Linked DNA regions of Homo sapiens. The protein of the gene in region 1 purifies or fractionates together with the protein of each later gene. This does not show direct contact. Each region holds a gene or a part of one and is shown in the gene's direction. Other genes may lie near its edges.

Region 1 (3,515 bases):
CTGCTGCTTCATACTACGTAGGAAAGATTGTTAAAGCCCAGTGCACTGTTTCCTCTGGTCACTCCTCTGCTATCAAGGTGTTCTCTTTTGCGTTATAGAAAGCTTAAAGTTCATCTAAGTCCAGACCAGTACTCCTATAGGAATATAATGCATGCCACAAATGTGAGCCACTTAAATAATTTTAAATTTTCTAGAAGCTACATTAAAAAGTAAGGAGAAACAGATGAAATAATTTTTTAAACCACTACATCCAAAATATTATTATTTCAACATATAATCAATAAAAAATAGTACTGAGGCCAGCACGGTGGCTCACACCTGTAATCCCAGCACAGGCCAAGGCAGGGAGGATCGCTTGAGCCCAGGAGTTTGAGACCAGCCTGGACAACATGGTGAAACCCCATCTCTACAAAAAATAAAAAAAAAATGAGTGGGACATGTTGGCACATGCCTGTTAGTCCCAGCTACTCAGGAGGCTGAGGTGGGATAATCACTGAGCCAGGAAAGTTGAGGTTGTAGTGAGCTGTGATTGTGCCACTGCACTCCAGCGTGGGTGATGGAGCAAGACCCTGTTTCCGAAAAAAAAAAAGAAAAAAAAGATATACTTAAAATTTATTCTAAGATGAAGTCTTCAAAATCAGGTGTATATATCATGCTTACAACACATTATATAATTTATGGCTCCTGCCTAGCAGGGGTCATCACTGTTAGTTCAACTTTTCTTTGGCAAGTCTACTCCCTGTGCCCCACCGTACACTGCTACATTATTGTTTGTATATGTGTGTGTGAGACTGCATTTAGGCAACTGTAATAGGTTGAATTTGGTTATTTAATCTCTGTCCAAAATCACATCACAAAGATGCCTTGATTATAGAAAGATCCTTCCTTGCAGCATATTAGTTATTTGACACCCTCAGTGGATATAAGTGAATATTTTGAGGGAAGAATAGAAAAGATACAATTTTTATTTATTTATTTATTTATTTATTTACTGAGACAAGTTGCTGCTCTGTCGCCCAGGCTGGAGTGCAGTGACATGATCTTGGCTCACTACAACCTCTGCCTCCCGGTTCAAGTGATTCTTCTGCTTCAGTCTCCCTGAGTAGCTGGGGTTACAGGCATGCACCACCACACCTGGCTAATTTTAGTATTAATAATTTATTTTTAAATGGAATAATAATTTCACTTTCTTCTTACCAGATCTTTCTGTCTGGGTTGTTTGCTTTTATGAGTTTTTTTGTTTGAATCTCCCTTTTACATTAAACAAAAATTAACATTTTATTATGGGAAATTTCACTATGCTATTAGAAAAGCATAGTGAACCCCCAGGCATCATCAGTGATATTCGGTGTATAGCAGTTCACGGACAGTTTTGTTTCATCTATACCAACACCTATTGCTTATCCTCCTTCTGTGTCCCCCAGTTACTTTGAATTAAATCTTATACATATACAGATGAATATTATCACTTCATCTGTATCAGAATGTTATTTTTATTAAGAAAATTATTTTTGAGATAGGGCCTTGCTGTAGTGCCCAGGCTGGAGTGTAGTAGCATGATATAACTCCCTGCAGCCTCGAACTCCTGGGCTCAAGTGATCCTCCCACCTCAGCCTCCTAAGTAACTGGGACTACAGGTGTGTGCCACCACACCTGGTAACAGATGGTTTTAAAAACTACAATACATTATCACACTTAAAAAAATTATCTTATCTAAAATAACTATTCAGATTTTCCCAGTTATTTCATAAGTGATTTTTTTTTTTTTTTTTTTGAGACACAGTTTCACTCTTGTTGCCTCCAGGCTGGAGTGCAATGGCCCGATCTTGGCACACTCCAACATCTGCCTCCCGGGTTCAAGCAATTCTCCTGCCTCAGTCTCCTGAGTAGCTGGGATTATAGACACCCACCACCACGCCCAGCTAATTTTTGTATTTTTAGTAGAGACAGGATTTCACCATGTTGGCCAGGCTGGTCTCAAACTCCTGACCTCAGGTGATCTACCCGCCTCAGCCTCCCAAAATGCTGGGATTACAGGCATGAGCCACTGTGCCTGGCCTTCATAAATGATTTTTATGGTTCAAATCAGGATCCATATAAAGTCCATATATGTGTCTTTTTTTAGTCTATAGATTTCCCTTCCATCTCCTCTGCAATTTATTTTTGGAAGAAACTGAGTTATTGAGTCATTTGTCATCTAGAATGATGTACAGTTTAGATTTTGCTGACTGCATTCCATGGTGTGGCCAAACTTCCTCTGTCTGGTGTATTTCTCATAAGTGTGTAATTAGATGGAAAGGCTTGGTCAGATTTAAATTAGTTTTTTTTTTTCTACAGGGATATTTGAGAGGTAGTGGTATGTATTTCCATCAGGAAGCACATAATGTCTTCTTGGCTCTCTTTGTGATGTTAGTAGCCATCAATTTCAGTGCCTAGATACATTAATTAGATTTCTGTATCTCCTACTATCTCAAAATTTTCCATCTTCTGTCTGTGCTACATTCTGAGTCCTTTCTTCAGTTATAAATTCTAATTCATTGTATAATTCTTGTTAATCTGTTGACTTTCTAAAACTGGCTTTTCATATCTAAAAAAATTTCCTTTTTTCAAGTCTGTTCATTCCTCATAGTTCTTACTAATTGGTCATTTTTACATCCTTTTTTTTTTTTTTTTTTTTTGAGACGGAGTCTTGCTCTGTCATCCAGGCTGGAGTGCAGTGGCATGATCTCTGCTCACTGCAACCTCCGCCTCCCAAGTTCAAGTGATTCTCTTGCCTCAGTCTCCCGAGTAGCTGGGATTATAGGCATCCACCATCATGCCCAGCTAATTTTTGTATTTTTAGTAGAGATGGGGTTTCATCATGTTGGCCAGGCTGGTCTTGAACTCCTGACCTCAGGTGATCTGCCCACCTCAGCCTCCCAAAGTGCTGGGATTACAGGCGTGAGCCACTGTGCCCGGCCTATCCTTAACTTTAGACATTGCACACAGTACAACTGCTATCCGTATCGGATAGTTCTTAAGGTCAGCAGCTATTGCTTATTGTGTCTGCTGACTCTCTTGGTAGCTGCCCTTCTTTTGTGTCTAGTGATCTTTGAGTTCATTGTTTGATCTTAACCAGGGGAACTGTATGGGCCAAAATTAGGATTGAGGATATTTTTCTCCATAGAGGATTTTCCTTAACTTTTGCAGCAGCTGAAAGATGCCATTCAGATGGATCTACATTAGTCATGATGCCAGAATTGGGCAAATCTGCTGACACCAGGACACCTGTGTATATGTGTTTGTGTCTTTCCAGGAATTCATTGAAGAGTTGCTGTCTCCCCCTTTTGGGGGTTTAGTGGCATTTGTGAAGGAGGCTGAGGCTTTGATTGAGCGTGGACAGGCTGAGCGACTTCGAGGGGAAGAAGGTATGAGGAAAATATGGTAATGATGGGATCAGTGGTAAGGGAAGTGGAAAAGAAAAATGAAAGGATGCAGATTACATGGTGGGGGAATAGAGTATGAAAGACTGGATT
Region 2 (4,466 bases), on another chromosome or scaffold:
GTTCCCTCTGCTGGTGGTTTCCACCATATAGGCCACATCTTGAGGGACTGGAGGTCTGTGAATCCATAGGTATTATTGTGGTTATTAAAATCCCATTGGTGACCGGGCGTGGTGGCTCACACCTGTAATCCCAGCACTTTGGGAGGCCAAGGTGGGTAGATCACTTGAGGTCAGGAGTTTGAGACAAGCCTGACCAACATGGTGAAACCCCATCTCCACTAAAAAAAATACAAAATTAGGCCGGGCGCGGTGGCTTACGCCTGTAATCCCAGCACTTTAGGTGGCCGAGGCGGGCAGATCACGAGGTCAGGAGATGGAGACCATCCTGGGTAACATGGTGAAACCCTGTCTCTACTAAAACTATAAAAAATTAGCCAGGCATGGTGACGGGTGCCTGTAGTCCCAGCTACTCAGGAGGCTGAGGCAGGAGAATGGCGTGAACCCGGGAAGCGGAGTTTGCAGTGAGCCGAGATTGCACCACTGCACTCCAGCCTGGGCATCAGAGCGAGACTCTTATCTCCCAAAAAAAAAAAAAAAAAAAAAAGCAAAATTAGCAAGGCATGGTGGCACACACCTGTAATCCCAGCTACTTGAGAGGCTGAGGCAGGAGAATTACTTGAACCTGGGAGGCAGAGGTTGCAGTGAGCTGAGATCATGCCATTGCACACCAACCTGGGCAACAAGAGCAAAAACTTCATCTCAAAAAAAAAAAATTCCCATTGGCATGGCGGCTCACACCTGTAATCCCAGCACTTTGGGAGGCCAAGGCAGTGGATCACTTGAGGTCAGAAGTTCAAGACCAGCCTGGCCAACATGGTGAAACCCCATCTCTACTAAAAATACAAAAATTAGCTGGGCATGGTGGCACGCACCTGTAATCCCGGCTACTCGGGAGGCTGAGGCAGGAGAATCGCTTGAACATGGGAGGTGGAGGTTGCAGTGAGCTGAGATTGCGCCACTGCACTCCAGCCTAAGCAACAGAGTAAGACTCTGTCTCAAAAAAAAAAAAAAAAATCCCATTGCTAGAAAAAGCATTACTGAATGCTGAATGCATGGTTATTTTTGGTCATTGGACAATTTGTGAACGAACAGATACTGAAAGTACTGCTGTGGGTGTTGTGGAGGGGGTGTCTTAAAATATTTTGACATATAAGAAAGAGTTCTTAAATGGAGAGTTCAAGAACCTATAGCAAATTTATTTATTTATTTATTTTTTGAGCTGGAGTTTAACTCTTGTCACCCAGGCTGGAGCGCAATGGTGCAATCTTGGCTTACTGCAACCTCCGCCTGCCAGGTTCAAGCGATTCTCTTGCCTCAGCCTCCCAAGTAGCTGCAATTACAGGCGCCCGCCACCATGCCTGGCTAATTTTTTTTGTATTTTTAGTAGAGATGGGGTTTCACTATGTTGGCCAGGCTGGTCTCGAACTTCCAATATCAGGTGATCTGCCCACCTCGGCCTCCCAAAGTGCTGGGATTACAGGTGTGAGCCACCACTCCCAGCCAGCAAATTCATTTTTAAAATTAACATTTATTTAAATTATATGAGTAACATGTTTATTGGCAGTAATTTTGATACCCCACAAAAACATAAAGAAAAAAACCAGCTATTATGAAAGAATGTCACTGGGTGCAGTGGCTCACTCTTGTAATCCCAGCACTTTGGGAGGCCGAGGCGGGCAGATCATGAGGTCAGGAGTTTGAGACCAGCCTGGCCAACGTAGTGAAACCCTGTCTCTACCAAAAATGCAAAAAATTAGCTGGGCGTGGTGGCGGGCGCCTGTAATCCCAGCTACGTGGGAGGCTGAGGCAGGAGAATCGCTTGAACCCGGGAGGCGGAGGTTGCAGTGAGCGAAGGTCACGCCACTGCACTCCAGCCCAGGCTACAGTGCGAGACTCCGTCTCAAAAAAAAAAAAGAATATATGCTCTGGGCTAAAATTCCAGGTCTATTGGCTGTACCGTATTGTGGGCTTCGGCAAGTTACTTAACCTTTCCAAGACCCAGTTTCCTTATCTGTAAAACAGGAATAATAAGGATATCTATAGAGTCGTAAGAGTTAAGTAATAGCATGAAATACATGAATTATTTTTCTCATTAAATATTTCTTTTTTTAAATTTTTTTTGTTGTTGAGACAGGGTCTCACTCTGTCACCCAGGCTGGAATGCAATGACACGATCTCGGCTCACTGCAGGCAGCCTCCACCTCCCGGGCTCAAGTGATCCTCCCACCTCAGTCTCCTGAAAAGTTAGAACTTCAGGCAGGTGCCACTATGCCTGGCTAGTTTTGCCATGTTGCCCAGGCTGGTCTCAAATTCCTGGGCTCATGCCTCAGCCTCCCCAAGTGCTGGGATTACAGGCATGAGCCACCATACCTGGCCATCATTAAATATTCTTTAATTATATAGTTATAGGTTACATGCTAATCATATTGGTACATCAGAAGTTTTGTAACCATTTGGACTACTTCTAGCCTTTTGCAATTATAAATAATACTGTGATGAGCAACTTTATTTTATTTTATTTTATTTTATTTTATTTTATTTTATTTTTTGAGACAGAGTCTCACTTTATTGGCCAGGCTGGAGTGTAGTGGCCACTGGAGCTTCCACCTCCCAGGTTCAAGTGATTCTCCGCTTCAGCCTCCCGAGTAGCTAGGATTACAGGCATCCTCCACCAAGCCCAGCTAATTTTTGTATTTTTAGTAGAGACGGGGTTTCACCATGTTGGCCAGGCTGGTCTCGAACTTGTGACCTCAAGTGATCTGCCCTCTTTGGCCTACCAAAGTGCTGGGATTACAGGTGTGAGCCACCGCGCCTGACCGAACAACTTTATATATAAATATTTTTATTTATTTATTTTTTGAGACGGAGTTTCACTCTTGTTGCCCAGGCTGGAGTGCAATGGCATGATCTTGGTTCACCACAACCTCCACCTCCCAGGTTCAAGCGATTCTCCTGCCTCAGCCTCCCAAGCAGCTGGGATTACAGACATGCACCACCACACCTGGCTAATTTTGTATTTTTAATAGAGATGTGGTTTCTCTATGTTGGTCAGGCTGGTCTCTAACTCCCAACCTCAGGTGATCCGCCTGCCTTGGCCTCCCAAAGTGCTGGAATTAGAGGGGTGAGCCTCCGTGCCTGGCCTTATATAAATATTTTTATATATCTCATTATTGCATCAGGATAAATTCCTATACGTGGAATAATTGGGTTAGATTATGTAAGTATTTTGAAGCCTCATGGTATATATTGGTAAATCCCTATCTGGAAGTTTATACTGTTTGACGCAGGAGTTAAGGAACTAATTTTATAGAAGAAAATATTCGCCAGACGTGGTGGCCCACACCTGTAATTGTAACACTTTGGGAGGCCGAGGCGAGAGGATCACTGGAGCCTAGGAGTTTGAAACCAGCAATCTCTTAAAAAAGAAAAAAAACATGAAAAAGCTTGAATAAGTTCAAATTGCATCATGATTGCAGTTATAGAAAAATGTGTACGTGGACAAATATCAGGAGAGTGCATGAAATAAAAACTGTTCTGTAAGGGTGCTAACATTAGATTATAGTTGATATTTCAGATCTGTACACTTCCTGTAGAAAGTTTTGTCTTAGCCCTTTCGTTATGCATTTCAGCTAAGACCATTGGCTTTTTATTTTTTATTTTTATTTTATTTTATTTTATTTTTTTTTGAGACAGAGTCTTGCTCTGTTGCCCAGGTTGGAAAGCAGTGGTGCTGTCTTGGCTTACTGCAACCTCTGCCTCCTGGGTTCAAGCGATTCTCGTGCCTCGGCCTCCAAGTAGCTGGGATCATAGGCGCGTGCCACCATGCCCAACTAATTTTTTGTATTTTCAATAGAGACGGGGTTTCTCCATGTTACCCAGGCTAGTCTCAAACTCCTAGCCTCAAGTGATCCGCCCACCTCGGCCTCCCAAAGTGCTGGGATTACAAGTGTGAGCTGCCACACCCGGCCTATTGGTTTTTTAGAGAATTGTATAATAGTGTATCATAGTAGTTTTGTTCAGTCAACACAGCTGGAAAACTTGAGAGAAGCCTTCGTCTGTCTGATGTGTTAACAGATATTCCTCCAGAGCAGGTAGTCCTAGCCTGGAAAGGTGCCTGAGTAAGAGTATCACCTACTCAATGTTACCTTGGTAAGTGATTGACAAGGAAGACTCCAAGGGAACAAGAGGGTAAGGCAGGGAAACAAGTTGATAATCATTTGTGGTGACTTATTCCAGATAAGAATGGCTGAAGGCAGCTGTGGTCCAATGGGAACGGTCTTAGGGTTTGGAGGTCAGAAGGTGTAGGTTTGGGTTCTACCTCTGCCACTTGTTAGCTAAGTAATGTTAAATCACCTACCTTGGTTTCTTGGCTGTAAAATGAAAATTATAAAATAGTATAAAATAGTAATATTTTATACTATTATTTTTTACTATTTATAGTAATTATTTTTATACTATTATTGTAC
Region 3 (4,466 bases), on another chromosome or scaffold:
TTGTATTTTTTAGTAGAGATGGGGTTTCACTGTGTTAGCCAGGATGATCTCGATCTCCTGACCTTGTGATCCGCCTGCCTCGGCCTCCCAAAGTGCTGGGATTACAGGTGTGAGCCACCACGCCCAGCCTATTTATTTATTTTTTGAGATGGAGTCTCACTCTGTTGGCCAGGCTGGAGTGTAGTGGCCCTTCCTCAGCTCACTGCAGCTTCCTTCTCCCAGGTTCATGCAATTTTCCTGCCTCAGCCTCCCGAGTAGCTGGGATTACAGGCGTGCACCACCACGCCCAGCGGATTTTTGTATTTTTAGTAGAGATGGGATTTCACCACATTGGACAGGCTGGTCTTGAACTCCTGACCTCAAGTGATCTGCCTGCCTCGGCCTCCCAAAGTGTTGGGGTTATAGGCATGAGCCACTATGCCCAGCCTATTTTTTGTTTTGTAGAGATGGGATCTTGCTATATTGCCCAGGATGATCTTGAACACCTGCCCTCAAGTGACCCTCCCACTTTGCCCTGCCAACATGCCAGGATTACAGGTGTGAGCCAACATGCTCACCTGTTTTTTTTTTTTTTTCTTTTTCTATTTCTTTTTTTTTTTTTTTTGACACAAACTCTCACTCTGTCACCCATGCTAGAGTGCAATGGCAGGATCTCGGCTCATTGCAACCTCCACCTCCCAGGTTCAAGTGATGCTCCTGTCTCAGCCTCCTGAGTAGCTGGGATTACAGGTACCTGCCACCATGCCTGGCTAATTTTAAATTTTATTTTTCATTAAGGAAGAGTGGAAATACATTCTTAGCATAAAGGATTCAAGCAATACTCAAGCATTTATAGTAAAATCTGAAAGTCCCTGCCTTGTCCCTCCCACCAGACACTGGGGTTTGCATCTCAGCGGTCAGTTCGCAACTGAACCAACCCCCTTCTCAAATGCCCTGCAGCATAATTGACCTTTGTGCATCTTGGCTTAGATGTGTAAAAAATGCTTATCTGTTGAGGGAGAAAAAAATTCAACATTGTGATGGTCGTTGAAATTAATCTGTTTGTGTCATAAGATTTGTTGCAAACAGGCTTGTAGAAACAGAAGGAAAATAATGTCTGGAGACTGTCCAGGGAAAAACTGAGCCAGCCAGGCCACATTTATATGTGGGAAGTTGTAGAATGAAAGGCATTAGTCACAGAGACTGAATGACTCCAGGAGTCAATGGGTAAAGCCCCCCTCCATGAGCAAGGTGGTGAGCGCCACAGAAAATTGTCATAGGTAGAACACAGCTGGCTCTGCCACCTGCATTTTAGCAACCATCTGTCAATGAAAATACTCTATAAAATATTTCAAGAGATTTATTCGGAACCAAATATGAGTGACCAAAGGCCCATGACACAGCCTCGGGAGCTCCTGAGAACATGTGTCCAAGGTGGTCGGGCTACAGCTTGGTTTTATACGTTTTAGGGAGACATGAGATATCAATCAATACATGTGAGACGTACATTGGTGTGGTCTGGAAAAGTAGGGCAGCTGAAAGCCGGGGCTTCCAGGTCATAGACACATTTAAAGATTTTTCTGGCCAGGTGCTGTGGCTCACGTCTGTAATTTCAGCATTTTGGGAGGCTGAGGTGGTCGGATTGCATCGAGCTGAGGAGTTTGGGACCAGCCTGGCCAACATGGCAAAACCCATCTCTACAAAAAATACAAAAATTAGGCCACGTGTGGTGGCTCACACCTGTAATCCCAGCACTTTGGGAGCCCAGGCAGGTGGATCACCTGAGGTCAGGTGTTCGAGACCAGCCTGGCCAACATGATGAAACCCCGTCTCTACTAAAAATACAAAAATTAACCGGGCATGGTGGCAGGTGCCTGTAACTCCAGCTACTCAGGAGGCTGAGGTAGGAGAATTGCTTGAACCCGGGAGGCAGAGGTTGCAGTGAGCCAAGATTGCACCATTGCACTCCAGCCTTGGTAACAAGAGCGAAATTGCATCTCAAAAAAACAAAAAACAAAAAACAAAAATTAGCTGGGCATGGTAGTGGGTGCTTATAATCCCAGCTACTTGGGAGGCTAAGGCGGGAGAATCACTTGAATCCAGGAGGCGGAGGTTGCAGTAAGCCGAGATCATGCCACTGTACTCCAGCCTGGGCAACAGAATGAGACTCAGAAAAAAAAAAAAAAGATTTTCTGATTGAAAGAGTTATCTAAAGACCTAGAATCAATAGAAAGGAATATTTTGCTTAAGACGGGTTGTGGAGATCAAGGGTTTATCAAGGAAGCCTCCAGGTAGCAGGCTTCAGAGAAAATAGATTGTAAATATTTCTTATCAGACTTAAAAAGGTGCCAGACTCTTAGTTAATTCTCTCCTGAATCAGGGAAAAGACCTGGAAAGGGAATCTCTGTAGAATGTAGCTTTTCCCCACAAGAGATAGCTTTGCAGGGCCATTTCAAAATATGTCAGAGAAATATATTTTAGGGTAAAATACTTTGATTTCTTTCCATACTGTATTAGTTAGGCTGGAACTTGGTGTCTTATTGCTACAAAAAAGTCTTACGATGATCAGTTATGTCTGACTTCCAAAGGCAGGAAGATAAAATGAGACATATTTGACCGCCACTTCCCATCATGACCTGAAGTAGTTTTTCAGGTTACCTTTGGAATACCTTTGGCCAAGAGGAGGGGTCCTTAGTATGGATGAGGACTTAGATTTTTTTTTTTTTTTTTTTTTGAGACAGGGTCTCCCCAGCTAGAGTGCAGTGGTGTGATCTTAGCTCACTGAAACCTCTGCTTCCCGGGCTCAAGCAATTCTTCAGCCTCAGCCTCCCATGTAGCTGACTACATGGTGTGAGCCACCAACATCTGGCTAATTTTTGTATTTTTTTTAGAGACAGGGTTTTACCACGTTGCCCAGGCTGGTCTTGAACTCCTGAGCTCAAAGCGATACACCTGCCTTGGCCTCCCAAAGTGAAGAGATTACAGGCATGAGCCACCATGCCCGGCCAAGAATTTTATTTTTAGTTTACACATCCTTGCTAACTTAGTAATTCCTTGTGAAATCTTGGTAGTTCTAACTCCAATACTGTGCATCCTCAAAGGCATTTCTGTCAGGAGCTTTTCAAGTTTCTTACAGGGTTTCTGCTGAAGTGCTACACCGCTGTTTGTTATGTAAAATGTGCATAAAAACATTTACCATTGTAACCATTTTTAAATGTAGAGTTCAGTGTCATTAAGTACATTCATAATGTTGTGCAACCATCATGACTATCCATGACTTGCGATACTGAAACAAACTCCATGTTCCTCTTCCCCTCAGCCTCTAGCAACCATCATTCTACCTTCTGTTGCTGCAAATTTGACTACTCCAGGACCTCATATAAATGGAATCACAGGCTGGCCACCCTGGCTTATGCCTGTAATCCCAGCATTTTGGGAGGCTGAGGTGGGCAGATCACTTTGAGGTCAGGAGTTAGAGACCAGCCTGGCCAACATGGTGAAACCCTGTCTCCACTAAAAATACAAAAATTATCCGGGCGTGGTGGCACATGCCTGTAGTCCCAGCTGCTCAGGAGGCTGAAGCGGGAGGATTGTTTGAACCCAGGAGGTGGAGGTTGCAGTGAGCTGAGATGGTACCACTCCACTCCAGCCTGGGTGACAGAGGAAGACTCCATCTAAAAAAAAAAATTTTTTTTAAATAAATGGAATCACAGTATTTGTCTTTTGGTGACTGTCTTATTTCACTTAGCGTAATGTCCTCAAGGTATATCCATAGCATACTATGTGCCTGAATTTCTTTGTTGTCATTGTAGTGTTTTTTTGTTTGTTTGTTTTTCTTTTTGGAGACAGAGTCTCTCTCTGTCGCCCAGGCTGGAGTGCAATGGCACGAGCTCAGCTCCCTGCAACCTCCAACCTCTTGGCTCTGATGAATCATGCTGCTATGAACATGGGTGTACAGGTATCTCTTTGAGACTGTGCTTTCAGTTCTCTTGAGTGTATCCCCAGAAGTGGAACTGATGGGTCACACAGTAATTCTGTTTGATTTTCTTTTTTGAGATGAATGCTCCGTATGTTGCCCAGGCGAGTCTTGAACTCCTGGGATCAAGTGATCCTCCTGCCTTGGCCTCCCAAAATGCTGGGATTACAGGCATGAGCCACCACGCCTGGCTTCTCTGTAGGTTTGAATTGCATTTTTCCTAATGATTAGTGACATTGAGCATCTTTTCATGTATTAGTGGCCATTTGTATGTATTCTTTGTAGTAATGTCTATTCTAGTCATGCACACTGGTGTTAACTTAATTTTTGTTGTTTTTTGTTTTTCAGTTCTAATCTCATTTTAGCAAAAACTTACCTTTTTAAATATCCTGTTGCATTGTAACATATACTTAGGTCCACAAATCTGAGCTCAGTGAGGATTATCCCATAGGCTTCTTTGTTTTTCGTGTCAGTCAATGCCAAATCAAAGCCCTTTGGGCTGGTGGTTTCT
Region 4 (4,466 bases), on another chromosome or scaffold:
TTCCAGAGGCCAAGAAGATGACCACCTTTGAGTATCTCATTAATAACCGCAAAGAAGAGAGTTCAAAACATCAAGCAGTGAGGAAAGATCCATACGTGCAAATGGACAAAGGAGTTCTCCAGGTACCACCTGTCTCTCTGCTCCATTTCTCCAGGCCTGGGACAATGTCTAAGGTCACTCGGTGGTTGGGACCTCTCAGCCATGCTCCTTTACTTCAGGGCCGATGCAGCCCATGGACTCTGCTGTGTGTGTGTCTGTGTGTGAGGCTCTGTGCATGGGTGTGTCTATGTGTCTTTGTGAACATAAACACCAGTCATGCACCACGGACTTCCTAGTGCAAAGATAGGAAAGGAACTGAGTCTCCTGGACATTTCTATACTGCACGATACATCTTCCAAAGTTGAAATGTGCTTTTTGCATCTTTTTTTTTGAGACAGAGTCTCGCTCTGTTGCCCAGGGTGGAGTGAAGTGGTGAAATCTCAGCTCATTGTAGCCTCCACCTCCTGGGTTCAAACAGTTTGCCTACCTCAGCCTCCCAAGTAGCTGGGATCACAGATGTATGCCACTACGCCCGACTAATTTTTGTATTTTTAGTAGAGATGTGGTTTTAACACGCCAGGCTGGTCTCAAACTTCTGGCCTCAGGTGATCCGCCCGCCTTGGCCTCCGAAAGTGCTGGGATTACAAGCATGAGTCACTGTACCTGGCCTGAAACATGATTTTTAACTTAAGGAAGTTAGTTCCCTTTCCGGTTAAGTGACATGAATTATTATAACTAACTCAAGAAGACATAGAAAGTCTAAATAGACATAGAACAGCCAAGAGACTAAACTACTAATTTAAAATCTCCCAGTGAAGAAAAATCCCAGGCCCTGTAGTCTTCATGCATGAATTCCAGCAAAGATTTAAAGAAAAAATACAATACAACCTACACACAGACTCTTTCAGAAAACAGAGAAGGAAGCAACACTTCCCAACTCATTCAGCAATGCCACTATCAACCTGACACCAAACCAGATATTCATAAGCCAGTACATTCAGGAAACACAGGCAGAGATCACTGATAAGACCTTGGGAAACCAAATCGAGCAGCACGGGGCAGGAATGTGCACTGTGGCCAAGTGATATCACTCCAGGGGTAAGCAGTGGCTTAAGGCCTAGGAATCAATTACTACAGCTCAGCACGTTAGTCCAATAGAGAACGGTAACCACGCAATCATGCCAATCAATGCAGAAAAGGGTTTGTTAACAGCAAGTTCCCATTCATGATTTTTAACAAATCTCAGTGACCTAGGAATGATAGGAAAGCACCCTGTGTACCTGACGTGACATTTACTGGTGAAAGGCTTGTGACCCTCTCTTGGAGGCTGGGCACAGGTGATGACGCCCTTTCCTCCTACTTCTGATATCACAGTCACATTCTGGCCAGCCCAGCATAGCAGGGAAAATGAAGGCACAGAGAATACAAAATAAAACTGTGTTTATTTGCAGACAATGAAACCTAAAAAGTATGTTTTAAGACCTAGTTAAGATAATTAAATCACTTAACAAGGATGTGGGGCACATATTAAAATACACGCTCGCACATCTCTATCCACCAGCAATGAAAAATCCGGGTTATATTTTTAAAACTTCCTTTCATAGTCTAATAAAAAAAGAATAAATTTGACAAACCTTATGCAAATATGTACACTGAAAGCTACACACCATGACTGAGAGAAGTCAGAGACGCTCTATTAAGTGAAAAGGTGTACAGCATTCATAGATTGGAAAAAAATACTATTAAAAGGGCAATTTTCCCCAAAACTTATCTACAGATTTACCACAATCCCTGCTGAACCCCAGCAGGCTTCTGTTTTAGCAGAAATGACAAGGTGGTCCTAAAATGTATATGCAAATTCAAAAGACCTAGGCTACTGTACTAGCCAAATGATTTTGAGAAAAAATAAAATTGGAGAACTTACACAACCAGACTTTAAATGTTACTATAAAGCTGTAGCACTAAAGACAGGTGGCGCTGACAGAGAGAGAGACATAAAGCTACAGTAATAAAAACAGTGTGGCACCGACAGAGACAGATATAGAGAAATGGACCAGAAGAAAGGTCCAAAGTTAAAGCTTTCATTTATGGTCAATTGACTTTAAATAATGGTACTAAAATCATTAAATAGGGAGAAATTATAGTTCAACAAGTGGTACTAGAACAATTGGATATCCACATGGAAAAGAAAAAAGAATGATTGAGTTCTTCATACCTGTACAAAGATTACCCAGGATCACTTCATTCGCCACGGAAGAATTAGCCCCAAATCCATCTGACACCTAAACTTAAAAGCTGAACATAGAACACTTCTAGAAACAAGCATAGAATGAAATCTCTGTGATCTTTAGTGAGACAAAGCTTGTCTTTGATCTGACACCAAAATCACTGCCTATTAAAGAAAAAAATCATAGTTTGGACTTTACCAAAATTGAAAATATTTGCTCTTCAAAAGTCACCATTAAGAAAATAAAAATACAGGCACACATGAGAGATACTGCAGGTTTGGTTTTAGAAAGCCACAATAAAGTAAACATGTCAGTAAAACAAGTCACATGAATTTCTGGTTTCCCAGTGCTTATAAAAGTTACGTTTACATGACGTGTGCAACAGCATTATGTCTAAAAACTATGTGTCTGAATTAAAAGTGCTTTATTGCTAAAAGCTGCTTACACAGACAATTGAAGTGAGCACACACTGCGGGGAAAATGGCGCCGACATACTTGCTTGACCAGGGTCACCACAAACCCTCAATTTGTGAAAAAACACAGTATCTGTGAAGTGCAGTAAAGCAATGCACAATAAAGCCAGGTGTTCATTCCTGTGCAAGCCACAGGCAAACAAAATATTTTCAAGTCTTAGACTGATGTCCAGAATACACAAAGACACAAAGAGCTTTCAAAGTGCAATTGTAAAAAAACAACAAACAAAAACATAAACAAACAGAAAACTCAGTTTTTCAAATGGGCAAGAGGGCTGGACACAATGGGAAGCACCTATAATCTCAGTGCTTTGGGAGGCCAAGCAAGAGGATTGCTTGAGGCCAGGAGTTCAAGACCAGCCTGAGCATCTCTACAAAAATAAATAAAAATACATACATACATATAAAAAATGGGCAAAAGATTTGAACAAACTCCTTACCAAGGTAGATGTAGATGTATAGATATATGGATGCCACATAAGCACATGGAAAAAAATGCTCAACATCATTCTACATCAGGCAGCTGCAAATAAAAACCACAATCAGATACTACCACACACCCAGGAGAATGCTTGTCATCAACAAGACAGACACCACCGAGGGTTGGTGAAGTTGTAGAGAAATTGCAAGTCTCCTGCGTTTTTTTGCTAGTGGGAGTTAAATGAGGGTGTAAAGTGCCACCACACTGGAAAGCAGTTTGGCATTTCTTTAAAAGATAAATGTCTAATACATGACCAGAATCCCACTCCCAGTTTCTCACCAGAGAGAAATGAAAACACGTGCACACGTAAGTGGTTCTGAGATCTGAACTCAGGACCCAAGAGAACTCCAGGTACCATTCCTCAAAACCCAGGAATAATAGACGTCACTTTTATGTAAGAATCAGCTGCATGTCAACAACTTCTTTTTTCATGTGACGAATTTTCTTTTGCCCCACAGCAAGGAGCTGGCGCCCTGGGCTCATCTGCACAGGGGTAAGTTGCAAGCTTCCTGCAGTAGCTTGGTCCTTCTGAAGAATAGCTGTATTCTTTTCTTAACTCAAATGACTTTGGAAAATAATTCACCTATGATGAGACATTTTGAAATCATGGGATGATGCAGTAGAAGATAAAATAGTTTTGTTTAATGTTGTTAAATTATACCAAATTATCTATCTCGATGTGCTTGTCTTACTTGCAGAAACTACATTCTTCACTCCCTTCTTCATAACTAACATCTAAACTAACACACAAGAGTAAGATCCGCTTATTTATTTCTACATCTCTCCATGAACATGTGGGTAGTTGTGAGTCTGAATGTATTTCTTATGATCTCTAATAGTGTTTCATAGACATTGTAAGCTCTGAGAGTCCAACCCATTCCTGAGTCAAGGTGCTAAGTAAATGGGAGCACTGGGGGTGCCTTGACCCGGAGCCCCACCCAACAGGGCCAGGGCTGGCTTCACAAACAGGGTTTCAAGAAGCGTCTTGGAGCTAGTGCTGTGCAGTGCGGTTCGTTTTATTTTGGAAGCTGAGAGTCAAAGGGCACGCGCATTTTCAGTCTTCACAGACTCTTTCTGATGACTTCTCAAAAGGGTGGAGCAGTTCACACTTCATTCAACGCTGTCGCTCTTCTCACTATGAGATACTAACAGTATGCTTAGTTTTATTCAAAGAAAATATATAATGTTTTAATATGCATTTCCTTACTACAATTACGACAACATTTTTTCATGTTTTGACCATTT
Region 5 (4,466 bases), on another chromosome or scaffold:
TATCTGACAATGAGTGCTTGTCCTGCCACTAAGTTCTTCATTTGTTCTCTATCTTATACTCTTTCTTGATTAATGTTGGATCTCTCTTCTTTGATTACCTTTTGATAATGAAGTTTGTTTCATTGGGTGCATAGCAGAGTGAGGAGCGAACCTTTCCTATTACCTCTTAGTTCTGTTCCTTACTTGCATGTTTTCTCATAGGCATCAGAGACAGCTAGTCAGGATACTACTTTTAGGGCTTTTATTCTCATGTAATACTTCCTTTTTTAAGTAAGATGGGTTTTGGCCTGAATTATGGCAGATCTTTATATGTGCTCAGTAAGATTTAAATTTGCTACAATTCTAGGCTTGTACATAGTTAGAAAACTATAAATATCTAAATTTTAGTGCTTAATTAAAGGGTTTATCTTGCAAATACTATTTTAAAATTACCAACATCTGTTAATTGAATAAAACACTATAGAAAATGCCGAGTGAAGCTAGTGGGTCATGAATCAATTCTGAGAAATACAAACTTTAGAAGAAAAGCTAATTTTTAGAATATGATTAATGGAATAATTATATATTCTCTCTTTTTAAATAATACAGCATATCATTTGGTTTGAAGGTTTCTTACAGAATTTACATGTTGAATGTTCTATACTTACATAATTGAACCCAAAATAGTAAAGAGCTTTCTTTTAATAACAAATATTTTTAGTCTGTGGGGTTTTCTGTTTCTGAATTTATAACCCAGTTTGTTGTGTGTTTAGTAGAAGGGAAATACATGTAATGCTAACTATTATAGTTAAACTAAACATGGGAAAATAAGGAACAATCTTAAAAGTATTAGAAGTCATGTCTGAAAAACAGTATTTTAAATTTAGTTTCTATATGCCTTTATTTCATTTCACTGGTTAAATATGTACTTATTATTGCTTAATCTTATTTTTAGATTGATTTGGGGGAACGCCCTGTTGTTCAAAGGAGAGAACCGGTATCACTGGAAGAATGGACTAAGAACATTGATTCTGAAGGAAGAATTTTAAATGTAGATAATATGAAGCAGATGATATTTAGAGGGGTAATTTAAACACTCTAATATGGCTTGTCTTATAAACTCCTAGTATTTAGGGGTTTTGTTGTTATCGTTACTGTTTTGGTGTGTTTTTTTTTGTTGTTGGTTTTTTTTTTTTTTGGTGGGGGAAGTAGGGAGGAATGAACTCTGTTATTTCTTTGATGAATGATGCCTTAAAATTCCTGGATTGAGTAGGACAGAGTGAGGTGCTTATGATGTTCCTGGGGGTTGGGTAGACCCTTAACTCTGGGGGAAGAATTCTTCCGTACTTGAAGTTCTGTGGGTTTTGTGAAGGAGGCCTGCATTCCAGTGGCATTTGCCTTATTCTGTAAGATTGGGCTTAGACTCACCAGTCACACTGTCTGTCTGCTGTAGTCTACTGTATTCTGTAGTCTACTGTATTCTGTGCACTGTTTAAACTTTCTGGCAGCTGCTTACATCTTTTGGATCTAGAAGTAAAAAACAAGATGATATTCACTGAATTGAACTATTTACATATATGAAACTACCTCTTAAAGATTAGTTTTCCTTTTTATATGCAAGTTTTGTGAACTTACAGTATTACATTCTTTTTCATTCATGTATTTAATATGTATGCTTTCTTCAGGGACTTAGTCATGCATTGAGAAAGCAAGCATGGAAATTTCTTCTGGGTTATTTTCCCTGGGACAGTACCAAGGAGGAAAGAACCCAATTACAAAAGCAAAAAACGTAAGTAATGGTCTTTCGTACATTTATCAAAGAGATTCAAGTAACCCACTCATACAAATTAGTATAGGGTTTCTAGATGAGGATTTGGAATAGACTGGGGAATGGAAAAACAACTTCATTTTTATGTTTTAACTTAAAAATTATGAGCATTCTAATTATTTTAAATCAGAAACTTACTAGAAGCACCTTTTTGCATTTATTTTTGTGAATATGTAAAAAGAAGATAAACATATTCCCTTATATAAGCCTTGTACAAGCCTTTTGCATACTTGAAAGATAACTACGTAGACATACACTTAAAAACATCTCTCATTCATCTTGATTCATTTTTATAATTCATTATGAAATTATAAATGGCTCATAAGAAATATATTTGCTATTTAGATTAATTACCTTTAAGTTACTTTTCTGATACTCTTATAATGGATCCTTCATTCTTTTTGGAAGAGTATTTCTATTTTAAGTTATTCCTCAGACTTGAAAGGAAACACAGACCAACTTTCCAGGTACAACTTCTTGTTCTCAGTTGTCAGTCTAGCCTTTGATTTAAAGCTATTTTCAGTCATTATGTGCATATTTAAGTTATCTGACAGTCTTCTCTTTTCAGCTTGTTTACCAGTTCTTCTAAGACATTTTTACATTAACTAGTTTCTGCAATAAACTGCTTGGAAATGGAACTATAATGTCACATTTTTTAAAAAAAAAGTCACTTAGATTTGTATTTACAATTATTTGGAAACTTTAGTGGTTAAAATATTTCATGACTAGAATACTTTTAGACATGATTTTAAGGATGAGATAAATGTTTTTGTAAAAGAATACCTAAAATTATTCTAGTAGTTGAACAAAGTTTATCACATAAACTTTGTGATATTTATCGGTTATTTTTTTCTTTTGTTTTCACTTATTTATCATAACTTTAAACGTTTTGCTATTGTTTTTATAAACTTACATTCCACTAGCATCATAAATGCTTTGATATACTGTTTATAGAAAAACCCAATTAAACAGTGTTAAAAATAAAGTTTTCAAATAGCTTTCTTTGATGTCAAATTGTTTTCTATAGTGATGAATACTTCAGAATGAAACTGCAGTGGAAATCCATCAGCCAGGAACAAGAGAAAAGAAATTCGAGGTTAAGAGATTATAGAAGTCTTATCGGTAATTTTTTCTTAACAACTTTGGAAATGCAAGGGGGGATTACATTGAAATCTTGATAAGAGTAAAGAAGTGAAGATACATGGTAATAGCACTAGGGCTCAAAAGAGAAATCAGAATAGGAAAGTACATTGCAGTGTGTGTTTAATGTTCTTTGTTGTTCCTCTTCCAATAGGCATATTAATTCAGTAAGTTTATTTATAAGTGTTGATATATTTAATTTTCAGTTCCAAAGTATGAATTTCTAAAAAGATTGTTTACCTTTATTTGCTTTTTGAATTAATTTCATTTTTAAAAAACTTTATTTTCTTTTTTATTATGAAAGTCTGTTTATTGTAGAAAAATTAACTGTAGATGAGCAAAAAGAGGTAAATAGAAATTATTTTTGTTTCTGTCACCCAGAGATAATTATGGTTAATAGGTATTGGTTTATATCCCTTCAGAACTTCTTTAAATATACATATATTTCATTTTTAAAATTAAATAAATGACTCCAGATATAAAATTTAGTATTTGAAAATAGAATATTTACCTGGGGATAACTATTCTCTAAAACACAGAGATGCTTGATAGAATTTTATCATTAAAGCATTAGTTGCATTTCATAATCTCCATTTACAAATGAGAAACTGAAGCATGGAGAACATAAATGACCTGTCCAAGGTCACACATGTCCCAGTTTAATGTTCTTATTACACTGTCTCTGTAATTTTAGGATAGCATTGGATAGTACTGGAACTTAGTTTTGAAATTCCTATATTGTATCTGGATTTGTATATCCGTGGTTTCATAAAGAATGATAGAGGGATTTGTTACTGCTGTTAACACCCTCCCATGAAAGAAATAATTTTTTAAATTATATTTAGAAAGCCCAACGTAACAGGCTGATTTGGTACCGTTTGTGGACATGAAAACAAGATCTTTTTGGCAGTGATACTTTTGATCCAAAAAGAATTTATTTTTCTGAAATGTAAATTATACCAGAATAAACTTTGTCCTTTCTCTGATTAAGGCGAAAGTTTGGGAGTCCTGAGTTTTGGAGTTTAATCTAAAGTTTCTAACTGAAGCTTCTTGATATTTTCAGTTTCAGTAGGAAAAACAATAAGGGATTCTGGTGTTTTACTCCTGCTTGAGCATAAAATATTCGAACTGGAAGGGAAGTTAGAGGTCAACTAAACCTGTATTTTAAGCCTCTTCTTTCTGCATGCCATATCCTCTTCCCTTTATATCAAGGATCAATGTTGATGTCTCTGATATTCTCAACCTTTCATGTCCTTTTCTGATCCTTTCCAGGAGACTGGTAGGAAAATTTAGATATTTAAAGTCCCCATAATGTAATTTGAATTGAGACATACTGTAGCCTACTTTGTTCATTTTTAGCAGATAAAGTTGAAGCCCAGAAAGGTTAGTCAGTTGTCTTAAGCCATCTATCTCGTTAGTTTTATAGTTCAGACTCATTCATACTCAGATCTAATTTTGAGTGGCCTTTCAGCTATACCATGCTTTCTGCCAGTAGAAGTGCATAAAATAAGTTAGTTTT
Region 6 (4,466 bases), on another chromosome or scaffold:
ATGCTATTTTAGGTATTTTTTGATAGTTTATTTTCCAATTGCTTTTTGCTGGTATATAGAAATAAGATAGATTTTTATATATTTACCTTGCATTTTACGACCTTGTTAAATGTATCTACTAGTTCTAGTAGTTCTTTGTAGATTCTGTAGGATTTTCCACATGTAGTATTATGTTGTTTGTGAATAAAGACTGGTTTACATCTTCTGTTCCACTCTTTATGCCTTCTATTTATTTTCCTATCGTACTAGCTAAAAGTACACATAACTATTCTGTTATACTGAAGGGATATGGCAAAAGTGGACATTTTTCTCTCCCAGGGGAGCATTTTCAATGTTTTATCATACATGGTGATATTTGTTTTAGGTTTTTTGTACATCTCCTTTATCAGATGAAGAAATTGGAAGTTAGGGATTGTTGTCCGTTTTTTTCTTGGTATATTCCAAGTATTTAGGAATAGTGCCTGGCACATAGGAGGTGCTTAATAAATATTTGAGTTAATGAATGTGTGTATATATGCACACGCTTGTGTGTGTGTGTGTAGAACTGATAAGATCTCTTGAAGGACTGGTGTGAGAAGAAATGATTCAAGGGTGACTAACTCAGATTTTGGCTTGAGGAGCTAGAAGGATGAAAATCTCAGTAACTGAGACAGAGAAAACCTCAAGTTTTAGGGATAGGTCAAGAGTTTAGACGTGGGTTTGTTGGAATTAATGGTGATATTTACACATCCAAGGACCAGTATATGAAATGATGGATATACAAGTCTGGAGGTCGGGGGAAAGGTCTGTGTGTGAGTCATTAGCTCAAAAATGAATTTTTAATATTGAGAAGTGTTGATCTTGACTAGTAGGATTTCTTTTTTATGGTGTGGTTCTGTCTAAGTGTACAGTACACTTTTATCATTTGGAAGCTGATTTTTCTCTTTTATAGGAAAGCCAGATCTTATTTCTTTCTTCTTTCTTTGGCCTCTTTTTGGTGTGTTTTATTTCTCATTTACACGAAGAATATAGCTATCTGCTATAGAGCTAATGGCTTTGATGGCAAAAACATATTGGCTATGATATTCATTGTATTTAAGGACATTTTACTTTCTAATCTTTATTCTAGATCCCTTTGTATTTTTTTATAACTTTAATACTATAATAGTTATTTTTATGAGTATTTACATTTTAAGTTGTCTTGTTTCTCACAATTACAAAAAGTGTGTTTTACATTGTATCTCAAAATACTTTTTAAATTTCAGTTATCTGACAATTCCTGAGTTCAAAAGCATACTTTTCATTGAAGTGATTGAAAAAAATAGGTATCTTAACAAGATGTGTATTTGCATTCTAACTTTACTATAACCATGAATTATTTTTTTTAGAGGTTAGAGAGAAATATATTGAAAGTTATAAAATGATTGTGTTATTCTTTTAGGTGAAATTGCCAAATACATGGAAACAGTGAAATTACTAGACTACACTGAAAAACCTCTTTATGAAAATTTACGTGACATTCTTTTGCAAGGACTAAAAGCTATAGGAAGTAAGGATGATGGCAAATTGGACCTCAGTGTTGTGGAGAATGGAGGTTTGAAAGCAAAAACAATAACAAAGGTGAATTTTGTTATTAAATTATTCTTTGGTCTTCTTGTGTTTATAATTGCAATAAATACTAAAAGAAAGTATAGCAGTAGTTCAATGAAGAACAATAACAGATTGCATGGCAATTAAGGCAAACATTTTTTGTAATACAGAAAATGTGTAGAGGGTTGTAGAAAAATAAATATTTATATATTTCTTATGTTTAGTAGCAAGTTACTAAATTCCTGAACTGATTTTAACTTGGAATACTGATATCTGACAGGGAAATTTTGATGGTGCACTGAATTCATAATTTATATGTTCTTTTCTCCCAAGTCACCACTTAGGGTTCATCTTGTCTTGGTTGTTTCTTATTTGTGGATATGGTCAGAGTATTTACCAGTTGAAAACGGGCATTTGAAAAATTACCATTTGAAAATTTCCTTGTTTGTTGGTGTGGTGCATTTTACCATTTGAACATTATTTTGCTCTGTGAAGAAATATTATATAAAGCTATATATCAGCATATAAGGGGATTAATTGTTTGGAGAGAAATGTTAAATAATGAACTTTATGGTAGAAGTATTATACAAGCATGTAAAGAACTTCTGGCATCACTTTAGATTTTACAGGTATGCATTAACTTACTGATTTGCTATTGATTATTTTTGATAATTAACTTACTGATAAACTTACTGATTTCCCTTATAATCTGAAATTATTTAATACAATGTGTTAGCTATTTTTATATGAGGAAGGAAAACAACTTTTAGAAGAAAAATTTTTTTTACATTATTAACCATTTTTACTGTCATTAACTTTGCAAATTCTAATAGATTTATTTGGAAATCTCGTATTCCAAACTGAGAAAAAGCGTTAAAACAAATTTTTCTCTCTTTAAAATCAGACGCAGCACATTGAAAAGTTTTTATCTTTTCAATTAACAAAGGAGATAGGAATTTTGAAATTGGACCAAAAATTTAACTTTGCCAAATAGCAGGTCTCTGTAATTTCATCATAGAATCTGAAATTATATACATGCATCTACATATACTTTTTTTTCTTTGATAAGTTTTATCTTAATTGCATCTGCTCCAGTTTTGTGGTCAACAAGTGTGCTGAAAACTGTATCTGTTTGAAATGAAGAGGGTAAAATGGAAGCCTGAGTGGAATTTTTTAGTAAGGTATTATAGTAAACTTACTCTTTGCATACATGCATAAACAAGCAGCATGTTTCTTATTGCTCAGGATAGATTTCTCTGCGTTAATATTTATAGGTAGCTTGTATAGTGTTTTTCTCTAAAATTTTGGTGATTGAGAAGTAAAGATCTCTGCTGCTATGTGAGAACTTGTCCAGAGCAACCACCTCCCTCCGCCCAACCCCCATCCCCCTGTCCCCGCCCCTACCTTCCTTTGCAAATCCCTTTGTTGTTTGGACTTACATGCTGGAGAAAATGTAGTTTCTGCAGGTTGGCTGACTTTACAGCTGAGTAGGTCAGTCTGCTGCAGAGCTAACATCTGTGACCTTATAATTCTGTGGTGTCCTTGGATAGTTCAGAAGGCTGGAAATTTCCTGTTGGATCATCCCTGACATGTATAAAGCTTCATTTAGGGGAAAAAAATGAATACTAAGTTGAACAAGTTGAACTATTAGGAGATTTATTTCATTAGTTTACTACTTTTTGTACACTCATTGCTGACACAGGGTTATTCTTTGTATTAAAAAGAAATTAATAAAAGTTAAGGTTAGGTAAGATCATGAGCTGCTTGATAGCCATGTAACTGAAGTGAGTTATTAATTTTGTTAGCTTTTTTTTTTTTTGTAAAGTGAAAGAACTGGACCAGACCAGTTTTTTTTCAAGCTTTTCTTTTAAACTGCAGAACATTTTCTTCATATAATTTGTAAATGCTGTCACTGAAAACAGATAAAAGCAGAGCTCTGCTGGATGAGAAGTTGGGGGCTCCCTGCAATGAAAAGCTTTCTCCTTTGAGAAACTAGCTTGCTGCCTCTGTTTTTCAGCAAGATCTATAACCCAGATGTCTTTTTTTGCTCTGGATGTCAGGAGGCTCAAAACTAAATATGATGCTTAGTTCTAGAAACTGTTAATTTTAATAATTAGTACATTTGTTTCCTCTCTTTTCGTTTGTCATAATTTTTGAAAGTGTGAAGTATATTTTCTGTGTATATATCAGACTCAGATCTCTTTTGGAAAGGGGTAGGTTTAATCAGTTTAATATATGTTTGTATTTAGGTTCCTAAGAAATATTCTTTTTGGTAAAAACCTACAGGAATTGATGAACAGTGGAATGAAGCAAGGTTTCTTGTCTATGTTTTTGCAGCCATGCTTGATTATGGTGCAGTATATTTGGAAACTAGAGTGAAACATGAATTTACCCACTTGGAAATGTTTTCTGCTTAATAATCAAGGAGCTTTATTTAAAGCATAGAATTTTGGGATGACATAAGGCTGAAGGAGAACAGAGAGATCAAGTATACATCTGCCCTTAAAAAGTACAAAGTCAAATATTTTTATTGTTGATTAGAACTAAACATTTTCAGTTTTTAGAATCTGGCAGTACAGTGCAACAGTTATTGGATTCAGTGTATACTCATAAATTAACATTCAACAATTACATAAAAAGTCTAGTTTATGTACCTGATCTAGGCTAGGTCTCTAGGGCTACGGAGATCAATGACATGTGGTCCCATTCTTAAAGAATTCCTTCCTGTTCCATCTGGGTTAAGAACAGCTTAATTTACTGGAAAGAGCTCAGCAAGTTAAAAGGACATTAACACTTCCATGAACTATTTTAGGGTTTTAAGTTGCCTGCCTAAGTCAACAAAAAGGGTTGTTGACTGGAATCTCATCCCTGGAAAGTCGTTGAGTAAGGTCTAGATC
Region 7 (4,466 bases), on another chromosome or scaffold:
CACTGACTTCCACAATGGTTGAACTAGTTTACAGTCCCACCAACAGTGTAAAAGTGTTCCTATTTCTCCACATCCTCTCCAGCACCTGTTGTTTCCTGACTTTTTAATGATTGCCATTCTAACTGGTGTGAGATGGTATCTCATTGTGGTTTTGATTTGCATTTCTCTGATGGCCAGTGATGATGAGCATTTTTTCATGTGTCTTTTGGCTGCATAAATGTCTTCTTTTGAGAAGTGTCTGCTCATATCCTTTGCCCACTTTTTGATGGGGTTTTTTGTTTTTTTCTTGTAAATTTGTTTGAGTTCATTGTAGATTCTGGATATTAGCCCTTTGTCAGATGAGCAGGTTGTGAAAATTTTCTCCCATTTTGTAGGTTGCCTGTTCACTCTGTTGGTAGTTTCTTTTGCTGTACAGAAGCTCTTTAGTTTAATGAGATCCCATTTGTCAATTTTGGCTTTTGTTGGCATTGCTTTTGGTGTTTTAGACATGAAGTCCTTGCCCATGCCTATGTCCTGAATGGTAATGCCTAGGTTTTCTTCTAGGGTTCTTATGGTTTTAGGTCTAACGTTTAAGTCTTTATTCCATCTTGAATTAATTTTTGTATAAGGTGTAAGGAAGGGATCCAGTTTCAGCTTTCTACATATGGCTAGCCAGTTTTCCCAGCACCATTTATTAAATAGGGAATCCTTTCCCCATTGCTTGTTTTTGTCAGGTTTGTCAAAGATCAGATAGTTGTAGATATGCGGCATTATTTCTGAGGGCTCTGTTCTGTTCCATTGATCTGTATCTCTGTTTTGGTACCAGTAACATGCTGTTTTGGTTACTGTAGCCTTGTAGTATAGTTTGAAGTCAGGTAGCGTGATGCCTCCAGCTTTGTTCTTTTGGCTTAGGATTGACTTGGCGATGAGGGCTCTTTTTTGGTTCCATATGAACTTTAAAGTAGTTTTTTCTAATTCTGTGAAGAAAGTCATTGGTAGCTTGATGGGGATGGCATTGAATCTATAAATTACCTTGGGCAGTATGGCCATTTTCACGATATTGATTCTTCCTACCCATGAGCATGGAATGTTCTTCCATTTGTTTGTATTCTCTTCTATTTCATTGAGCAGTGGTTTGTAGTTCTCCTTGAAGAGGTCCTTCATGTGCCTTGCAAGTTGGATTCCTAGGTATTTTATTCTCTTTGAAGCAATTGTGAATGGGAGTTCACTTATGATTTGGCTCTCTGTTTGTCTGTTATTGGTGTATAAGAATGCTTGTGATTTTTGTACATTGATTTTGTATCCTGAGACTTTGCTGAAGTTGCTTATCAGCTTAAGGAGATTTTGGGCTGAGACAATGGGGTTTTCTAGATATACAATCATGTCGTCTGCAAACAGGGACAATTTGACTTCCTCTTTTCCTAATCGAATAGCCTTTATTTCCTTCTGCCTAATTGCCCTGGCCAGAACTTCCAACACTATGTTGAATAGGAGTGGTGAGAGAGGGCATCCCTGTCTTGTGCCAGTTTTCAAAGGGAATGCTTCCAGTTTTTGCCCATTCAGTATGATATTGGCTGTGGGTTTGTCATAGATAGCTCTTATTATTTTGAGATACTTCCCATCAATACCTAATTTATTGAGAGTTTTTAGCATGAAGCGTTGTTGAATTTTGTCAAAGGCCTTTTCTGCATCTATTGAGATAATCATATGGTTTTTGTCTTTGGTTCTGTTTATATGCTGGATTACATTTATTGATTTGCGTAGATTGAACCAGCCTTGTATCCCAGGGATGAAGCCCGCTTGATCATGGTGGATAAGCTTTTTGATGTGCTGCTGGATTCAGTTTGCCAGTATTTTATTGAGGATTTTTGCATCAATGTTCATCAAGGATATTGGTCTAAAATTCTCTTTTTTGGTTGTGTCTCTGCCCGGCTTTGGTATCAGGATGATGCTGGCCTAATAAAATGAGTTAGGGAGGATTCCCTCTTTTTCTATTGATTGGAATAGTTTCAGAAGGAATGGTACCAGTTCCTCCTTATACCTCTGGTAGAATTCGGCTGTGAATCCATCTGGTCCTGGACTCTTTTTGGTTGGTAAGCTATTGATTATTGCCACAATTTCAGATCCTATTATTGGTCTATTCAGAGATTCAACTTCTTCCTGGTTTAGTCTTGGGAGAGTGTATGTGTTGAGGAATTTATCCATTTCTTCTAGATTTTCTAGTTTATTTGCGTAGAGGTGTTGGTAGTATTCTCTGATGGTAGTTTGTATTTCTGTGGGATTGGTGGTGATATCCCCTTCGTCATTTTTTATTGCGTCTATTTGATTCTTCTCTTTTTTTCTTTATTAGTCTTGCTAGCGGTCTATCAATTTTGTTGATCCTTTCAAAAAACCAGCTCCTGGATTCATTAATTTTTTGAAGGGTTTTTTGTGTCTCTATTTCCTTCAGTTCTGCTCTGATTTTAGTTATTTCTTGCCTTCTGCTAGCTTTTGAATGTGTTTGCTCTTGCTTTTCTAGTTCTTTTAATTGTGATGTTAGGTGTCAATTTTGGATCTTTCCTGCTTTCTCTTGTGGGCATTTAGTGCTATAAATTTCCCTCTACACACTGCTTTGAATGTGTCCCAGAGATTCTGGTATGTTGTGTCTTTGTTCTCATTGGTTTCAAAGAACATCTTTATTTCTGCCTTCATTTCATTATGTACCCAGTAGTCATTCAGGAGCAGGTTGTTCAGTTTCCATGTAGTTGAGCGGTTTTGAATGAGTTTCTTAATCCTGAGTTCTAGTTTGATTGCACTGTTGTCTGAGAGATAGTTTGTTATAATTTCTGTTCTTTTACATTTGCTGAGGAGAGCTTTACTTCCAACTATGTGGTCAATTTTGGAATAGGTGTGGCGTGGTGCTGAAAAAAATGTATATTCTGTTGATTTGGGGTGGGGAGTTCTGTAGATATCTATTAGGTCCGCTTGGTGCAGAGCTGAGTTCAATTCCTGGGTATCCTTTTTAACTTTCTGTGTCGTTGATCTGTCTAATGTTGACAGTGGGGTGTTAAAGTCTCCCATTATTATTGTGTGGGAGTCTAAGTCTCTTTGTAGGTCACTCAGGACTTACTTTATGAATCTGGGTGCTCCTGTATTGGGTGCATATATATTTAGGATAGTTAGCTCTTGTTGTTGAATTGATCCCTTTACCCTTAAGTAATGGGCTTCTTTGTCTCTTTTGATCTTTGTTGGTTTAAAGTGTGTTTTATCAGAGACTAGGATTGCAACCCCTGCCTTTTTTTGTTTTCCATTTGCTTGGTAGATCTTCCTCCATCCTTTTATTTTGAGCCTATGTGTGTCTCTGCACGTGAGATGGGCTTCCTGAATACAGCACACTGATGGGTCTTGACTCTTTATCCAATTTGCCAGTCTGTGTCTTTTAATTGGAGCATTTAGTGCATTTACATTTAAGGTTAATATTATGTGTGAATTTGATCCTGTCATGCTGTTAGCTGGTTATTTTGCTTGTTAGTTGATGCAGTTTCTTCCTAATGTCGATGGTCTTTACATTTTGGCATGAGTTTGCAGCGGCTGGTACGGTTATGCCTTTCCATGTTTAGTGCTTCCTTCAGGAGCTCTTTTAGGGCAGGCCTGGTGGTGGCAAAACCTCTCAGCATTTGCTTGTCTGTAAAGTATTTTATTTCTCCTTCACTTATGAAGCTTAATTTGGCTGGATATGAAATTCTGGGTTGAAAATTATTTTCTTTAAGAATGTTGAATATTGGCCCCTACTCTCTCCTGGCTTGTAGAGTTTCTGCCGAGAGATCCGCTGTTAGTCTGATGGGCTTCCCTTTGTGGGTAACCCGACCTTTCTCTCTGGCTGCGCTTAACATTTTTTCCTTCATTTCAACTTTGGTGAATCTGACAATTATGTGTCTTGGAGTTGCTCTTCTCGAGGAGTATCTTTGTGGCATTCTCTGTATTTCCTGAATCTGAATGTTGGCTTGCCTTGCTAGATTGGGGAAGTTCTCCTGGATAATATCCTGCAGAGTGTTTTCCAACTTGGTTCCATTCTCCCCATCACTTTCAGGTACACCAATCAGGTGCAGATTTGGTCTTTTCACATAGTCCCATATTTCTTGGAGGCTTTGTTCATTTCTTTTTATTCTTTTTTCTCTAAACTTCCCTTCTCGCTTCATTTCATTCATTTCATCTTCCATCACTGATACCCTTTCTTCCAGTTGATCGCATCGGCTCCTGAGGCTTCTGCATTCTTCACATAGTTCTCGAGCCTTGGCTTTCAGCTCCATCAGCTCCTTTAAGCACTTCTCTGTATTGGTTATTCTAGTTATACATTCGTCTAAATTTTTTTCAAAGTTTTCAACTTCTTTGCCTTTGGTTTGAATTTCCTCCTGTAGCTCGGAGTAGTTTGATCGTCTGAAGCCTTCTTCTCTCAACTCGTCAAAGTCATTCTCCGTCCAGCTTTGTTCCGTTGCTGGTGAGGGACT

Evidence for each region.
Region 2: the proteins of VPS52 (region 1) and CIAO2A purify together in Homo sapiens (co-immunoprecipitation; one large-scale study listed by IntAct). This does not show direct contact.
Region 3: the proteins of VPS52 (region 1) and ARMC6 purify together in Homo sapiens (co-immunoprecipitation; one large-scale study listed by IntAct). This does not show direct contact.
Region 4: the proteins of VPS52 (region 1) and ZDHHC11 purify together in Homo sapiens (co-immunoprecipitation; one large-scale study listed by IntAct). This does not show direct contact.
Region 5: the proteins of VPS52 (region 1) and TBC1D15 purify together in Homo sapiens (co-immunoprecipitation; one large-scale study listed by IntAct). This does not show direct contact.
Region 6: the proteins of VPS52 (region 1) and VRK1 fractionate together in Homo sapiens (co-fractionation; one large-scale study listed by BioGRID). This does not show direct contact.
Region 7: the proteins of VPS52 (region 1) and EIPR1 purify together in Homo sapiens (affinity purification with mass spectrometry; 4 studies listed by BioGRID and IntAct, with this or other methods). This does not show direct contact.

The regions. Positions count from the first base shown.
Region 1 is NC_000006.12:33,251,752-33,255,266, reverse strand, and holds part of VPS52 (vacuolar protein sorting-associated protein 52 homolog), read left to right. Parts: intron 1-376; exon of another isoform or gene 377-569; intron 570-3,295; coding exon 3,296-3,407; intron 3,408-3,515. UniProt on the Homo sapiens protein: Acts as a component of the GARP complex that is involved in retrograde transport from early and late endosomes to the trans-Golgi network (TGN).
Region 2 is NC_000015.10:64,083,163-64,087,628, reverse strand, and holds part of CIAO2A (cytosolic iron-sulfur assembly component 2A), read left to right. Parts: intron 1-4,466. UniProt on the Homo sapiens protein: Component of the cytosolic iron-sulfur protein assembly (CIA) complex, a multiprotein complex that mediates the incorporation of iron-sulfur cluster into extramitochondrial Fe/S proteins.
Region 3 is NC_000019.10:19,046,368-19,050,833, forward strand, and holds part of ARMC6 (armadillo repeat-containing protein 6), read left to right. Parts: intron 1-4,466.
Region 4 is NC_000005.10:833,021-837,486, reverse strand, and holds part of ZDHHC11 (palmitoyltransferase ZDHHC11), read left to right. Parts: exon of another isoform or gene 1-6; coding exon 7-122; intron 123-3,679; coding exon 3,680-3,714; intron 3,715-4,466. UniProt on the Homo sapiens protein: Endoplasmic reticulum-localized palmitoyltransferase that could catalyze the addition of palmitate onto various protein substrates and be involved in a variety of cellular processes.
Region 5 is NC_000012.12:71,895,013-71,899,478, forward strand, and holds part of TBC1D15 (TBC1 domain family member 15), read left to right. Parts: intron 1-934; coding exon 935-1,063; intron 1,064-1,664; coding exon 1,665-1,768; intron 1,769-2,834; coding exon 2,835-2,929; intron 2,930-4,466. UniProt on the Homo sapiens protein: Acts as a GTPase activating protein for RAB7A. Does not act on RAB4, RAB5 or RAB6.
Region 6 is NC_000014.9:96,859,137-96,863,602, forward strand, and holds part of VRK1 (serine/threonine-protein kinase VRK1), read left to right. Parts: intron 1-1,420; coding exon 1,421-1,599; intron 1,600-4,466. UniProt on the Homo sapiens protein: Serine/threonine kinase involved in the regulation of key cellular processes including the cell cycle, nuclear condensation, transcription regulation, and DNA damage response.
Region 7 is NC_000002.12:3,370,353-3,374,818, reverse strand, and holds part of EIPR1 (EARP and GARP complex-interacting protein 1), read left to right. Parts: intron 1-4,466. UniProt on the Homo sapiens protein: Acts as a component of endosomal retrieval machinery that is involved in protein transport from early endosomes to either recycling endosomes or the trans-Golgi network.